Regions from separate parts of the Homo sapiens genome. Here region 2 is linked to region 1. A link means that fine-mapping ties the variant in region 1 to the plasma level of a protein whose gene starts in the linked region. Region 1 holds a variant in brackets. A gene starts in the other region. All regions are shown on their reverse strands.

Region 1 (8,323 bases):
GGCTTTCTAAGTCACCTTTGTTTATAGTTCCTTTAAAACCCAGAGACAAACCACCCCTTAATTCATGCACTGCTGAGAAGGTGAATCTGCCTTTTAAAATCCAAAGGAAGCCATTAAACCAAGTTGGTAACCATTGTGACTCATAATAAGCTTTCTTCTGTAAAAAGAAAATGAGTCAGAACGACTTTCCAGGAAGTTTGGTTACTTTAATTAGCCACCTCTTTCTTCTTGCCCTTAAACACAGGCAGTAATTTGAAGATCACCTAAGTATTGATGCTACCAGCCGGGAGCCCTGAAGTGAAAGATCTCCTGGTGGTGGTAAAGTTCCAGACATCACGGGCTCCTTGGAGCTGAAAAGGGACCTGTGCAGAATCCTTTCCTAAATGGGAAAGGGAGCAAAACCAACCTTCCGGGCTGATGCACTGGCCTGAGTAAAGCGGGGAATGAGCCAGAAGTACTCAGCAGCGATGCCCATCTGTATATTCCAGAATCTTAATGACGATCACAGCTGCCATGTGCCAAGCACTGTGCTAAGGGCTTGAGACATCATCTCAAGTAACTCTCAACCCACTCTCTAAGTTGGGCATTACTTTTCCCCCTTTACAAAAGGGACAAGGATAAATTTTCAGGTCATGCAGCCAGTAAGCAGTGGAGCTGCAAATTTTATCCCAGGTCTGTTTGATTCTAGATCCATACTCTTCAAAGCTCATCCGTTCCTACCTCCTAGGGAGGCAAAGTGGCTGGTCTAAGGTCACATATTGAATTGGTGGTATCCCCGGATAAGAGACAGATTCTGAAGGTCTTAGCCAATGTCTGGATTCTTTCTCTCTTAACCTACTTTATATATAGCTCCCAGATAGGAAGCCAGAATTTGCTCATATTGACCATAACACACTAACCTTCCTAACCCCCACCAGGATTTGAACTCCCTCCCTTTCCTGGCTCCTCTTTCAGGGTTCTATGTGGCTCATTCTCACTCCTAACACTGTTACCCTGATTTGGTCTTAGTAACAGAACACCAGTGCAAGCTGGTTAGGCGTGGTCTTCTTTCCATGTGGACGCTCTCTTAGCTGTGTCCCCACACACCTGGGCAATGGGCCCCAGGTAAACAGAATTGGCTCCAGCCAGCCTGCTTCCAGAAAAGGGCAATCCAGCCTCTCTGGATCATGGCTCCTGGGCTGGTTTTTCTCTAGGGAAGGGTGTCAGTGTGGGGACTATATCTATCACTCTCTAGCTGAACTGAGTTTAAAGTCTTGCTCAGGTTTTTGAGATAAAAGGGAATCTTCTTCTCAACTGGGAAGAACAGGTGCCCCTCTCCACAGACCCTTAGTAAAAGATACTCTGCTAAATAATCTATTGAAACATGAGTGTGACCGGCCCACATTCTCCTTAGTCTTGCTGCCTCTGTACATAAGCAAAGCAAAATAGAAAGATTGTAGTTTGATGTGTATTGCTACCTGTGCAAGGAAACACTGTTTCAGTATTAAACTGGGGAGCAGAAAAGTTTATGGCAAATGCATACTGTGGATGCCCTCCCCGCCAAGACCCCCAATTATCTTGCCCCTGACAAGAATCTCATAGCTTCAAGAATGGAACTACACTGCTCTACAAGATTTGAAAAAGATTTTAGCTCTGGGGGACATTGATTCTCTTCCACTTCTAATTTCTATGTCTCTAATGATCCAGATGAAAGACTAATTGAGGTCTGGTTGGAATGCTATTAAAGTTATTTGGTGGTGCTACAATTTATACTCATCTTTAAGTTCTTTTTAATTATATGGAGCTTTCAAAGCAAGGCTTGAACTATGGAGGTAAAAATAGAGAGCTATGAAACTCTCTTTTTTAATTCTTCTTTGTTCCTCTCAGCTTTTTTTGGGACGGTCCAGCCTCAAACTCCTAGGCTCAAGGAATCCTCCCACCTTGGCCTGCTGACTAGCTGGGACTACTGACATCCTTTCCCTTCTTTCCAAAGCAAAGTCACCTCCAGGCACCAAGCCTTTCTCTCTGAGCCTATTTGCCACCCACATGCACGTTATTTGGAAGAGAAACATTTGTACACAGGCCTCTTTGGTTAGTGCCTTGAGTAGGACTATCAAGGTATCTGGGGCTAAAAGGCCTTGTCCCCATCTAAGAAAGACAGGTTCTGCCTCTGCCAGTCACAGCAGTTGGGAACACAGCTGCTCCTGAACTTTTTTGGTTTTGTTCTGTTTTTAAGTATCTGGTCTCTTCCTAGCCTAATTCCAGAGGTTTTGTTCCACTGTGGAGCAATATCTACTGTTCAAAGGCTCCAGAATCATATCCCATGTCCTCAGGGAATTCCCTTAGTTCCTAAGACCTAGCTTTGGGGTCTGGTTGGCTGAAAGACCAAGCAAGAAGAGACACCAGTTGTTCAACAATTCCCAACAACTCTCTTCCCCCCACCCCCTCCATCCCCGAGAAGAGAAGACCCTTACCTGGCTCCACCTGGCTGAGAGTGCTGCGAGCATCCGTGGAATCGGCTACATCCCCACTCATCTTGATATCTGCAGGGAAAACACAACTGATTTTAATAACAGGTCACAATTTTTCTTGCTATGACATATGTGGCTTTAACTAAATAACAAAGATGAATGTGTAATTACAACAACCATCAGACTTTCAAATTCCTGATTCCCGAACATACAACCATTAGAATATTCATAAGCTTGAGGGCACGGATCCCCTCCTCCCATGCTCGCCTCCTCTCCTTGCCTTTCTCTTCCCCTTTCCCCGGTGCCACTGCAGGGTCTCTCACCTTTTGCATCATTCATGGCCACTTGCTTCTATCACCAGGACTCAGTTGGTAAAAATTTAACAAGGGGGTGGAGGGGACACTTCCCATTTCCAACACTCGTTTCCTTTGGGATCTGAGGAATTTATTTTATTTTTAAATAGTGAAAGAATTATCCCTCCCCGCCTGCCTCCCCAGCTCTGTTTCCCTTAATAACCCCATCCTGGAAGGTAAGAGTGCCCTTAAACCAAGGCTTGCCCTTCTCACCTTTCTTCCCAGGTCCTGCCTGGGTTCTCTGTCTGGTCTCAGAGGTCAGCCCACAGTCTGGGGATCAAGTCCTAGCTCCTGTGTTGTCCTCCTTGGAGATCCTGTCCTTTGGGGATCCTTACCTTCTCTCCTACTCCTTCAACTGGCTCAGTGAGAAAGGGATGGCAGCGGGTCAGTGCCCCACAGAAAGAGAATACCTACACCAGGCCCCTGGCTCAGCCCCCAAGTCCTGCTGGTCCAGCCTCTCTGCCCTGCTTCATTTCAATAAATTAAACATTTACCCTTAACAGACAGCTGCCACCACCTATGTGGGAGGCCCCTAAGTCTCCTCTTGGGGTCAGCAGGGGGAAGAAGAGAGGCAACTTTGAACCAACTCACTCTCTCTCTGCTCCTCTCCTTATTAAACCACCCAAAGACTGAAGCCTTAAAGACAGAAGAATATTTATTCAAATCATGTTGACCCCCACACCCCCCCTTCTCTGGGGCAGCACTTTAACTCTTTCAAACCAGATAAAGTCTTGGTGAGCCAATTTGCGTACTCAGCTCCCCAGCCAATCCCAGTCAAGCAGGCAGTCTTAATTTGCATCAGGTAATCAGGCAGTTGGCAGTCCGGATGCCCAGGTCTGGAGATGATCAGGATGAGGAAAAAGGGTAGACCTGTGCCCCAGGGAAAGAGGGGAGAAAACCTACTTTTTCATGTGTGTGAGGACTAACGTGTGTGGCTCCGGCCGAGGTGTACACCTCTGGAGTGTAGCAGCTTCGATGCCAAACAAGACATAGATGGGGGATCCAGAGATTTAGAGGCTAGAATACCCCAGAAATAGGGGAGAAAGTCAGGAGTCACTGTGGTTTAAGGAGTTTTCAAGACCAGCCAAATTGAGGGAAGACGCCAAGGTAAACACTTAGAGCTCTATGGAACCCTCCCCAGACAAATCTACACTGCACTTTGTGGTC[G/A]GTCACAGAGCTCTGAGGAAGACCTGCAACCTTACCCCACCCCCTCCCCTCCTAGTGCACAGCGTTTAGGGAGGCATTTCTTGAGCCTAACCTCAATCCGTCCTGCTGCAGTCTCAAACTCTCTATAGTTTGCCATGCATGAATATGCAGAATAACTACTATGGACCGCCCAGACACATTTGCAAAGGGCTTCTGCTGCCACTGGCCTTCTGTTCCAATGGAGAAACGGGCTCCCCTCTCCCACCCATTAAGTACTATCCCCCCTGGAGCTGGGCATTGCCTAACGCAGATCTGCTCAGCTCATACTTCACCATGGGGATTCTTCAACAGTGCTGAGAAGAGGCCCTGAGTCAGAGACTGCTGGAAAGGTGCACAGGAAGTTCTCCCCCACTGGTGGTTTCAATTTGCTTCATCAGCACCAGGATTCAGAGCATGGGATTTGGCATCAGACAAACCTGGATTAATCTCAATGCCATCACTAACTAGCTAGGGGACCCTAGCCACATATTCGGATGTGAATTTTCTCACCTAAAAATGAGAATAATGATATACACTTCCCAGGGTTTTTGTGAGGATTAAATGAAATACTGAATGAAAACTGCCAGGAAAGGAGTTCCAGGCACAAAGTAAGCACCTAATAAATGAACTAATTAAACAGACACTTAGGCTTAGATGCTAGTCCGCTTCCCTTCCTGCCTTCTTCTCATGCCCCTCCATTAACCCCTTGCCCCATTATAAGGAATAGCTTTGGTTTTCTGTCTCAGCACCATTGTAATTTGTCCTTTATCTGGGAAACCATTAGGATTCTCCAAATTCTGACTTCACAGAAAAAGTGTTCATGAGGACAGGAAAAAGTTAAGAGGCAGTGACGCTGGGATGATGACCAGAGTCTCTGAATCAACTCATTTCAAACTCCTGAAATTTAAGAAGGTAATTCTTTAGCTAAACTGTAATCGCATGCCTAGAACCCAAATTCTCCTCCAACACCCATTCTCCACATCACCTTCATCAAATACACACAGAAGCTCTCATTCATCCTTCAAGTTAGCCTGACATTTAGTCTTAATCATGTCTAAAAATAACTTTCAAAGGCATCAACCCCCTCCCCTCCTCATCTGCCATGTTGTCTACTCATTTGATGTATCCATTATGGGATCAACAAGGTGCCACTTCAGGATTGGAGGGGCAGGGTGAGATAACCTATCAAGCCTCTTCTTGAGTCCCATAGGATGCTAAGACACTGAGAACCTGTTCCTGTTGGGTAGGAGGCTGAGGCTGATGGGTGGGACGAGCTTTTGGGTCTCAGCCTAAAAATGGGCCAACACCGAAACTCCCTGAGACACTGTAACCCTTCACCTGTCGGACAGCACTTGCCAGGGGTGAGTGAGAGAGGTGTGGGGTGGGGCCAGGCTCCTCTGTGTTATCTCAGCCAGACACTGAGTAGGCTCCTTGCCATCACTCCCTTCCCTGGGGAGGCTCAGCTGCTCTGTGAAAGAGCCCAGACACCAGCTGCAGACCCTTGGCTGCCCCACTCAGCACCATCACACCCTGAAGTTAGCGTTGGCTTGACCAGGAGTGGGCCCTCCTTAGACATCTGTGAACCCCAGGGAAGAAAGCTCGAGAGGAAGCACTCCCCACAGGCTGCAGGCTGAGGGTCCTGGACCTCCTGGGACCAGGCTACTCTGGGAAAGCAGAAGCCACAGCCCTCTCTCCTAGTGTCCATCTTCATGTTCTTGGAAGGACGGGAGCTCCCTCTGGCTCCTCCCGCACATACCTGCTGATGGCGGCACTTCCACTGGGAGACTTCAAAGGACCCACCGGCCCCACTTCTGAGCTAGCCAAGGCTCCAACTCTCCGCCAGAGGAGACTTCTCTCATTTCTTCTCAGTCCCATCATCAGGCCTTCCAACCCAAATGCTATTCCTGAGCTCCAATTGGCACCCGTCTGTGAGACTCAGCCCCCCTTTCCCAACCTTGGTGGGGAAAAGCTCACAGTGAGGAGAAGGGCAGAGAAAGAGACACCTGGGGCAAACCAGGTGTGCCCCCGCCCGCTGGCTTCCCACTGTTTTCCTTTGTCTCTTATCTGCCTCCCTAGCTGGCTGTCTCGGGTCTACTTCTCTGCCTGTTTTTAGTCAGGGAGCAGGGAGCCCCTCCTTGCTGCAGAGCCCCTGTGTCTGGTGACCCTCTGCCTGCTCAGGTCTTTGTGCTTCCAGGTGAGAGATGCTCTATAAAGTACAAGGTGCGAAGGCTCCAGGCAGACCTGAATCATGGCTCGTACCCAGGTTATCAGAGCAAGACAATGGGGCTAACTCCAGCTGGCCTCAGTGCGAGTGGAGCCCTTGGAGTGGGCGACCCGGGAGCAAGCCTATGCTCTAGTTTGTGTGCTCCTGTTCCTCCTCCTTCCCCCATCCAAACTCCTCCAGTAAGTCAATTAAGGAGGAGACCCCAAGGACCCAGCCCTGGGAATTCACAGGAGAAGTACTATTTATCAAGATCAGTAGGATACAGGATTACCTTGGCGGGGGAAAATGGGACTCAAAAGAGACCACATTTCCAAAAGAGGATCCTGGACTAAGGGACCCTAGAGAGGGACCCATAATGAGATATTCCATAGAGGGAAGAGCGATCCTCCTTCACAGACCCCACAGCAGGGTGCGCACTGGAAGACCCTACAAAGAAGATCTTGAACAGTAAAGGCCACCAGGAGGACCCAGCAAAGAGAGCCCTCTAATAGAGACCCAGTTAGAGAGATGGGACAGAAAGTCCTAAACTCAGAGACCTCTGGAGGTGCCACTGAAGGGGAACCCTCAGACACTACAGAGGGGCCAAGACCCAGAAACTGCACAGGGAGGCCAGGTAGCCCTGAGGGGGGAATGGGCTGGGGAGGGAGCAGGCAAATGGAGAGAGATGAATTGGGCAATCTACCCCCAGGTACATGGAGATCCCGCCCTGAGGAATCACCCCACCTGGGGTTTAGCTCAGTCTCCCCCCATGTGTCGGGAATACCTGCTCACAGGGACAGGGTGGAGAAGGTGTCTGGGCTTCTGAGAAGCATCAGCCAGGAGCTCACTCCTGGGGAAGGCATAGAGGCCAAGCCCTATGCCTCAACCTCATCCTCTGGTGTTCTCTGCTCTCTGCTATATCCTCTGAGGCCCCAGGCTGCCTCCCTGCTGGGTCCCAACTGTCCCACCCCCTCCCACTTCCACAGAATGGGAGCCTCCAGTAGACAAGGAGGTGGAAAACCCCCAGGAAGTCTGTGATCTTGGTGCTAAAAAACTTCCCATCCACTGCTAAGCCCACCTTTCTGAAGAGACTTGCTCCCATTCAAACCCTGGCCTTCTCTGCGGGCAGTGAAGGGGAGAGCACCTACCCGGGGATCTGCCCCAGGTATGCCCAGTCTAGAAACAGACTTTCCTCAGACTCTGGATGACACCCAGTTGGATGGCTTCTTCCGCCTCACCTAGCCTTTCTGGCACGTCCTGGAGAGCCACTCAGTGCCAACATCTCACTGCCAGTCTGCCTCTCACTCAGCCCTGCCAGGAAACAGCATCTGGGGAACTGGGCACTCCAGGTCCCCTCCCTCCGGGCACTCACTGACGCTTGTTTTCAGGCTGGGTAGGCCTCAGGCCTGCTCTGCTTCTTGGGGTGGGTCTGGAGCATTGCCTCCTCCCTACTCTCCCAGAAAGGAGACCAGGTAACAACATTCCCATCAACAGCCCCGAAATCCTAAAGAAAGATCACTGGGTCCTGCCCACTTTGAGAGTAAGTTGCTAGGTTAGAAATGGCCAGGTCAGGTACCGCTTTCTTCACTTGTTCTTTGCTCAGGCCCTGTGACCTCCAGAAGGCCCACCCTAACAGGAAGCCCCAAGCCAAGCCCAACCTGGCTGCCTGGCAGCTCCTGCCTTAGCCCAGCTGTGGAAGGAGGAACAGCAAGGTGAATGGAGGGGCTGGGTTCCCTCCATGCCCACCTCTCATTCATTCATTCAGGGAAGCCTGACTCCCGGCAAAGCATTTGCATCTCCTAGGTTTCCACCCCTTAGGGAAGGAAGGCATGGGACATGGAACCCAGAGGATGTGTCTGTCACCATCCCTTCTCAAACACATGGGGGCATGGCCCCTGCCCCAGGGGCACCTCTGTAATTGCCCCACCTCAGCCACTTCTCCTAAGCCCCCCAACCACCTAAATGTCCGCTTTGCCTCCATTTCACACATATGCCCGGACACCAGCACACAGCATGTGGACATACACATTTCCCTCACTTATGCACTCCCAGGTCCACACCCCTGGCTGAGTGAGTGAACCACCCATCCCTGCAACCTCCTGAGACTATGACAGTTCAGTACACCCACGTCC
Region 2 (8,323 bases), not on the chromosome of region 1:
CACCCACCCACTCATCCATCCATCTCCCCTTTTAGCCATACATTATTCACCTATCCATCCTTCTACCCATATGCCCACCCACCCATCCATCACTCTCTCCATCCATCCACCCATCCCCTATCCATTTATCTATCCATCCATCCATTCACTCATCCATCCACCATCCATCCATCCACTCATCCATCCACCCATCCATCCGTCTTCTGTCCAGTCTCCATTCATTCACTCATCCATTCATCCCCCATCCATCGACCCATCCACCCACCCCTGCATCTATCCCTCTTCTGTCCCCCATCCATCCACCCACCCATCCATCCACTCACCCATCCATCCATGCATGCACCCACCCATTCATCCATCCATCCCCCATCCATCCACCCATGCACCTACCCATTCATCCATCTATCCCCCTTCCATCTCCCCATCCATCCATCCATCCATCCTCCATCCATCCCCCATCTATCTATCCACCCATCCATCCATCCATCCATCCTCCAGCAAATGCTGCTCAACAGTCAGCATGGTCAGACCCAGGCTGTGGGAGAAGGATTCTTAGAGGAATGGAAACATGTTCTACTTGAGGAGATGACAGTCCAGTAGTCCCTCAGGCCAGCCCAGACAGGGCAAGCATCAAACACCAACAGTGGTGGTGGGGCTTTTTGACTGCATGCTGAAGGCAGTGGAGAGCCAGGGAGCGTTTCTGGGAAGAGCAGTGCCATAAGCCAGTTTGCATTTTAGCTGGTCTCTCTGAGTGGAGGGTGGAGAGTGTAGCCAAGGAGAAAGGGCCAGGCCTCTGGGAAAGAGACCGGGCTGACATGGCAGATAGCTGGGGCTTGGTGTGAACTGGCTCAGTGCTGCAGGCCTATCATGGATGAGAACTCTGGGGTTTGGGGGATTGAGCTGCCTTCAAAAAACCTGGTCTCCTGGTTCCACATGTCGGGAAAAGGTGTGGATTCATGGAGAGGCAGGAGGAGGGGAGGGCAGTCACCTAACTAGGGCATAAATTCTCCCTGCTTGAGTTGTGTCTGACACAGTGCTGCTTTTCCACCTGCCAATAGGGTGCTGGGCTCAGGGATGGGCCAAGTTAGTGCCCACTCTTCCCACACAGCGGAAAGGCTGCCTGTGCCCCTCTGCTGGCTGCTACTCCCACCCAGAGCACCCTCTGAGGACTTCCCTCCCTTTCAAAGCCAATGTGAGCAGCAGCTGAGAGCAGTACCCCTGTCCTCAGCATCCGCCCACCTCTGCCCCAAGTACACCTGCACTGTGATCAGCACAGAGCTGAGTTGAAAGCTTGATGGAGGCCCATCCTTTGCCAGATACTTGCTAGTTTTCACAACCACCCTCTGGCAGATGTTCCCCTGACCAGTTTATAGATGAAAGAACGTGGGGTGAGAGTCCTTGTGAGTAGACATGGGCTTCACGGGAGGCCGGGTGGAGCTCAGGCTCCAGAACCGGACAGTCTCTGACTCCTCTCGAAACACCTGGGTGTGTCTGTGGACCAAGCCCTGGGGAGAGGCTGCTCTTGGTTGCCATCTGTGCACCAACCCATGTCAGCCCCTTTGTTTGATTTGCAGTAACTACGCCCTCCCTTGGCTTTCTTGCAACCATCCCACAGCCTCACACAACTCACCTCAGCCCACAAGGCCAGGTCACTTCAGCTTTCACAACTACAAACAGAAAACCAAAGACTGGAAGGAAAAAGGGGCCACACCAAGGCCACAAATGGAGAGAGCAGTAGGCCAAGACCAGAACCCAGGACTCCTGGTGCCAGCCCAGAGCTCCTTCCAGCATCGAATTCTGCCTCGGAAGGGCCCATTCACTACACATTTGTCTGCCGCCACTTTTATAGCCACCCATCCCTCCATCCCTGAATTCTCCCATCCATTCATTCATTTTTTCACACATCAACTCTCTCAAATGTCATTCATTTAATAATCCATCCACCCATCTTGCCCCCATTCATCCATCCATCCTCCACCCACCTATCCACCCATCCTCCATCCATCCATCCTTCTGAAATCCATCCATCCACACATCTATCCAACATCCATCCATGCATCCACCCACCCATCCTCTGCCCATCCACCCATCCGTCCCCATCCATCCACTCATCCTCCCCTCATCCCCCACGCATCCACCCATCCATCCTCCACCCATTCCCCATCCATCCCCCACCCATCCACCCATCCATCCCCCACTTATCCATCTACCCATCCATCCACCCATCCATCCATCTATCCATCCCCCACCCATCCTCCATTCATCCCCCACCCATCCATCTATCCATCCCCCACCCATCCATCTATCCATCCCCCACCCATCCACCCATATATCCTCCACCCATTCCCCATCCATCCCCCATCCATCCCATATTCATCCCTCACTCATCCATCTACCCATCCATCCACCCATCCATCCATCCACCCATCCATCCATCTATCCATCCCCCACCCATCCTCCACTCATCCCCCACCCGTCCACCCATACATCCTCCACCCATTCCCCATCCATCCCCCATCCATCCCATATTCATCCTCCACTTATCCATCTACCCATCCATCCACCCATCCATCCATCCACCCATCCATCCATCTATCCATCTACCCATCCAGCCACCTATCCATCCCACACTCATCCTCCACTCATCCCCCACCCATCCACCCATACATCCTCCACCCATTTCCCATCCATCCCCCATCTATCCACCCATCCATCCATCTATCCATCCCATATTCATCCCCCACTCATCCATCCACCCATCCATCCACCCATCCTCCACTCATCCCCCACCCATCCACCCATATATCCTTCACCCATTTCCCATTCATCCCCCATCCATCCATCCAATCCATCCCCCATCCATTCCATATTCATCCCCCACTCATCCATCTACCCATCCATCCATCTATCCATCCATCCATCTATCCATCCATCCCCCACCCATCCTCTATTCATCCCCTACCCATCCACCCATACATCCTCCACCCATTTCCTATCCATCCCCCATCCATCCACCCATCCATCCATCTATCCATCTACCCATCCAGCCATCTATCCATCCCCCACTCATCCTCCACTCATCCCCCACCCATCCACCCATACATCCTCCACCCATTCCCCATCCATCCCTCATCCATTCCATATTCATCCCCCACTCATCCATCCACCCATCCATCCACCCATCCATCCATCTATCCATCCATCCCCCACCCATCCTTCATTCATCCCTGACCCATCCACCCATACATCCTCCACCCATTTCCCATCCATCTCCCACCATCCACCCATCCATCCCATATTCATCCCCCACTCATCAGCTACCCATCCATCCACCCATCCATCCATCCACCCAACCATCCCCAACCCATCCTCCATTCATCCCCCACCCATCCACCCATCCATCCTCCACCCATTTCCCATCCATCCCCCATCCATCCAACCATCCATCCCCCATCCATCCCATATTCATCCCCCACTCATCCATCTACCCATCCATCCACCCATCCATCCATCCATCCACCTATCCATCCATCTATGCATCCATCCCCCACCCATCCTCCATTCATCCCCAACTTATCCACCCATACATCCTTCACCCATTTCCTATCCATCTCTTACCATCCATCCATCCATCCCATATTCATCCCCCACTAATCCATCTACCCATCCATCCACCCATCCACTCATGCATCCACCCATCCATCTCCCATTCATTTACCCATCCATCCCCCACCCATCTATCCATCCATCCCCTATCCATCGCCTATTCATCCCCCATTCATCCATCCCCCATCCATCCATCCATCAACTCATCCATCTATACAACCACCCATTGGGACATCACAGGACAGAGAAACCAGAGAGGCTGGTATACCTGGAAGGACTGTGGAGAGGGGCACCTTAGTGGGTCTCACAGCATGGGGAAGATGTGGGACATCAGATGGGAGACCAGGCAATGTGGTCATTGAGCGGTATGGCATAGGCAGGCATGCGTGTGGAACAGGGTGTCGTGGGGGGCACGCAGTAAAGAGCAGACAACACAGTCAGGCCAGGAGGCTGGAGGGTGAGCAGAACCTTATTGTCAGGCGCCTAAAATCAAGAAACTCAGGTTTGGTCTAAAGGCCATTAGTGGGAAGGGGCTGGCAGTGATGAGGGGCCACTCCTGGGCCCAACCTTGTCAGCCTGAGAGTGGTCTAGCTGGCCCATGCTACCCTCACCTGACACCTGCTTCCTACCTCTGGTTTCTACTTTGCAGGTGTGTATCAGGTGTACACAGACCAGGTAGAGGTCTGTGGAGAGGGCTGCAGGCCAGGCTGCAGGGAAGGGGTGCCAGGCGGGGCTAGAGCAACAAGGGCAGAGGCTACACTGAACCTGGGTCTTAAGGGTCCCCCAGGCTGGGGCTGGGTGGCCTATGTGAACCCCAGAGGCACAGCCAGGACATGGGGGCTCATCAGAGGGGCAGTCTGAGCTCAGCAGGAAAGGCCTTCTCTGTCAGAGCTGTCCCAGGACCACTGGACATGGCTGAGGAACAGTGAGTTCCCCAGTGTTGGAGGTGTGCAAGCAGAGGCCTGGCCATCGTCCTCAGACAGAGCTCCCAGATCCAGCTCCCTGCCCGTCTGCCATGTTCCTGCCAGCTGCCTCCCCACTGGGCCCTTTACCACGTTCCTGACTCACACGGCCGGTTCTGCCACCGCCCAGAAGCCGGTGCCCAAGGGCCTGGGTATAAATCCTTGATGTGAGGCTGGCTACCTCTCATCACTTCTGAGCACGGAGCAATGGCCTCTCGCTGGGCTGTGCAGCTGCTGCTCGTGGCAGCCTGGAGCATGGGCTGTGGTGAGTGGGCCGCAGGCTGGTGGGGACCCTGCCTCTGAGCTTGTCTGCCCACCTCCTAGGGGGATGGGGCTGTTGGGGGTGCTTTGTGGCTGAGAGCCTCCTTAGGCCTCCATGAGGCTCACCCTCCTCATTCTCAGTGAGCCTCCTGGGTCCCAGAGCCCAGCTTCACCCTGGGACAGGGGTCACGGCTCCACTCTGCAGGAAGGGAGACTGAGGCTTGGTGGAGGGATGCAGCATTCAAGTCTGTGGCTCAGCTCAGTTAGAGAAAGCTGCCAGAGAGGCCCCTTGAAGGGCTGCCCGGGGCCTTGAAAGATGTCAGCGAGACTCCTTCAGCCCCTGCCTCCTGGTTCCAGGATGAGGCCACCGAGGTCAGGTGATGAGGTTCTGCCCCCATCCCTCACCCAGGTGAGGCCCTCAAGTGCTACACCTGCAAGGAGCCCATGACCAGTGCTTCCTGCAGGACCATTACCCGCTGCAAGCCAGAGGACACAGCCTGCATGACCACGCTGGTGACGGTGGAGGCAGGTGAGGCCAGGCCCCACGGCAGCCCTGGGTGCACTGGAGTCAGGGCCACCTCCCCCAAGTGCCTCCCTCCTTTGCTGGTGCTCCTCCCGGCCCAAAAGGCAGCAGGTGGGATGGGCAGAACAGGCTGCCACACCTTGGCAGGGGTGCCTTCCACGAGGGTGGCACAGCCCCCTCAGAGACCCAGTCCTGGGGCACCAGGCGCTGGAGGTGGGTGGGGCTTAATGGCCGGGGTACCCTGGGGGGCTCAAACCCCAGCTCTGACACAGACCCACTGGGTGGTGTTGCCACAGCCTCTGGGCTCGGGCTCCCATCTCAGCGCAGGCACTTCAGAGGTCTGACAAGGCCTAATAATTCATGAACAGGTCACAGTCAGAGGAGGGCTGGGCCCTGGGTGGCTTCACAGATGTGGACTATTGGGAACAGGGATCACAGGGAGGGTGAGGTCAGGCGACGGCGGCTGGGAGCAGTGCAGCAGCAGGCAGGCGCTGCAGGGGAGTGAGGGTTCTGACACTGGCCCACCCTGCAGAGTACCCCTTCAACCAGAGCCCCGTGGTGACCCGCTCCTGCTCCAGCTCCTGTGTGGCCACCGACCCCGACAGCATCGGGGCCGCCCACCTGATCTTCTGCTGCTTCCGAGACCTCTGCAACTCGGAACTCTGAACCCAGGGCGGCAGGGCGGAAGGTGCTCCTCAGGCACCTCCTCTCTGACGGGGCCTGGCTCCACCTGTGATCACCTCCCCCTGCTTCCTGCTGCTGTGGCACAGCTCACTCATGGGGTCTGAGGGGAGAGAAGCACACCAGGGGCGCCCTCTGCCTTCCATACCCCACGCTTATAAAACATAACTAAGCCAAGAGTGGACATGACTTTTGTCCTTCCTGGGCACTGACACCCTACAGAACTGGCCTTCAGGAGAGCCAGGCTGAAGGACAGCACATTCTAGGCACCTGCTCCTCCCTCTCACCCAGAGCCTCTGTGACCCATTTCACAGATAGGAAAACAGAGACTTAGGGGAAGAAATGCCTCCTGGGCCCCTTTCCTGATGCAAACTAGCCTGGCATCTCAGACCAGGACCTGTACCCTAGCCCAGGGAACATCTCCCGCTAAGAATCTCCCCTGTAAACCCTGGAGACATCGCTCCCACCCTAGAGAGGGAAGGAAGCTCAGAGTTGGCATCCACTTTCCTCCAAGGGTGGATACATCTGGCTCTGCCTGCCCAGCCCAAGGGGTCTTCCTGGGTGTGTGCACCTGGGCCTGCTGGTACCACACAGCTCCACGGTTTCAGTCACCTCCTCTGACAACTGCCCACTGTCCCCTTGGGACAGCTGAGATTAGCGGAGGAGCCCCGGGTTCTCAGGACCCAGGAGACCTGACTTCCAGGCTCGCTTCCCCCTCTTCCTGGCCCTGGCTGTCCCATCACAGTCACAGTGCTCTGTGCCACTGTCACCCCTGTCGGCAGGTGGGCAGAGCCAACGGGGAGCACGGGCTGCTGTGGGCCTGAGCCACCCCTGGACACTGCCCCTCTCCAGGCCCCAGTCCCCTGGTGTCTCCTGGGCTGCACACCATCTAAGCGCTGCCCAGCTAGGTCTTGGGTTCTAAGGCCCCACACATCAGCTGGGTCACGCCCGTGGGGTCTTGTGGGCACCTGTGCCTGCTGGGGTGGGAGCGGTATGCAGCAGGCTGTGGTCAGACCAGCTGGGCATACCCGAGGAGCATGCGGGAGTAACCAGGGCAGTGGCGGGGGTCGCCTAGGACCCCTGTGAGAGCCCACCTCTGTCTATGAAGGGCCCAGATGTCAGAACCCACCCCCTACCTCTACGCCCTCCCAGAAATACCAGGAATTAAATGCTGTCCCTGGGGAGCAGCCCCGACCAGAGAAAGCTGCCAGAGAGGCCCCCTTGAAGGGCTACCCCGGGCCTCCCCGTTGGCCAGCACCGGGCCGGCGGCGTGGCTTCCGGTTAGGGCCCGTCCCCTGGGTCATGGCCGGACCTCCAAGGGCCTCACCCGGGCCTCGATTGGAGCCAAGGGGGCAGGGCCTTGGCCTCACCAGGGGGACGGAGCAAGAAGTCGCCGCATCTCTGGCAGCGTCCCCAGCGGCACAATGGGGATGAGGCCTCCAGGCTCTTTGGGAGCGCAGTGGTGAAGGCTCAGCAGGTGCCCCTATCCCTGGGAGGGCACCTGCGAGGGGCCCCCGATGCTGAGCCCGCACGGCCAGCAGAGGGCGCGCGCCCGAGTCCCGGAACCCGCGCCAGGAAGACTCGTCCCAGAGCGCGCACCGCGAGCACGCGGCGACCCTGTGCGCTCTGCCCGGAACCTGCACTGCGCGCGCAGCTGGGCCGCCTGGACCGTAGGGGTCCGCAGCACAGAGTTCAGAGAGCCCTGGCCCTCTCGGCCGGCCTGGAGGACGCCCACCTGCCCTGCCTGTCGCCGCGACCCTCCCAGGAAATGCGTGGGGAGGCCACGGCCAGGGAGGGACCTCGGGAGGGCGCGCCCACGGGGTGGGGCTCGCGGAGGCCAGGCGCTCACCACCCGGGCGCGCGGGGTCTAGGGAGGTGAGTGGGCGTCGCATCCGTGACCGTCGCAGGACGTGGGTAAAGCTGGCGGGGAAGCAGCCAGCCGCCAAGAGGTGGCGGTGGAGGGGAGGGAGAAGGGCGCCCACCCGTGCCGCTAGGCCCTACTGCGCGGAGGGGAAGCAGAGGCCCTTCTGAACCCCACTACCGCGGAGAGGTCAGACCAGCCAGCGCTAGTCTTCCGCAGCTTTAAGAAATCTCTAAAGGAGAGGGGTGTGCAGACCGCAGGGCGTCCCTCCCCGCCCTCAGGAGCAAGACCCTCCACCTCCCCAAGGGTGCCCCCAACTCGCAGGTGTCCAGAGGGGAAGTCATGCGGGGAGCGGCGGCCTGGGCCTGGGACGAATCAGCCCCTTTGGCCTGCCTCGTTGAGCCCCTGGCGGCCATACTGGGAATTCCC

Which allele goes with the higher level. Positions count from the first base shown, and alleles are read on the strand shown. Strength reflects both the effect of a copy and how common the allele is.
With allele A in place of G in region 1, the plasma level of the protein whose gene starts at base 4,755 in region 2 is higher (weak association).

What was found. PIP is the posterior inclusion probability: the model's chance that the variant is causal. The UK Biobank Pharma Proteomics Project read protein levels with antibody pairs (Olink). The fine-mapping took linkage between variants from a reference panel, not from the people measured, so its PIPs are less certain.
Region 2: it holds the start of SLURP1, and the variant in region 1 is fine-mapped to the plasma level of the SLURP1 protein (UK Biobank, PIP 0.98).

The regions. Positions count from the first base shown.
Region 1 is chr11:120,240,648-120,248,970 of GRCh38, reverse strand. It overlaps POU2F3 (POU class 2 homeobox 3), which reads right to left. Exons shown (of 13, transcript NM_014352.4): 2 at 2,454-2,522. Among named protein-coding and RNA genes, the nearest start is that of POU2F3, 4.7 kb to the right of the region's middle. The variant G/A (reference allele first, on the strand shown) is at 3,971.
Region 2 is chr8:142,738,838-142,747,160 of GRCh38, reverse strand. It overlaps SLURP1 (secreted LY6/PLAUR domain containing 1), which reads left to right and starts at 4,755. Exons shown (of 3, transcript NM_020427.3): 1 at 4,755-4,833; 2 at 5,239-5,358; 3 at 5,885-6,212. The coding sequence starts at 4,776. The coding sequence ends at 6,018. RefSeq lists silencers at 7,558-7,637, 7,678-7,957 and an enhancer at 8,206-8,323.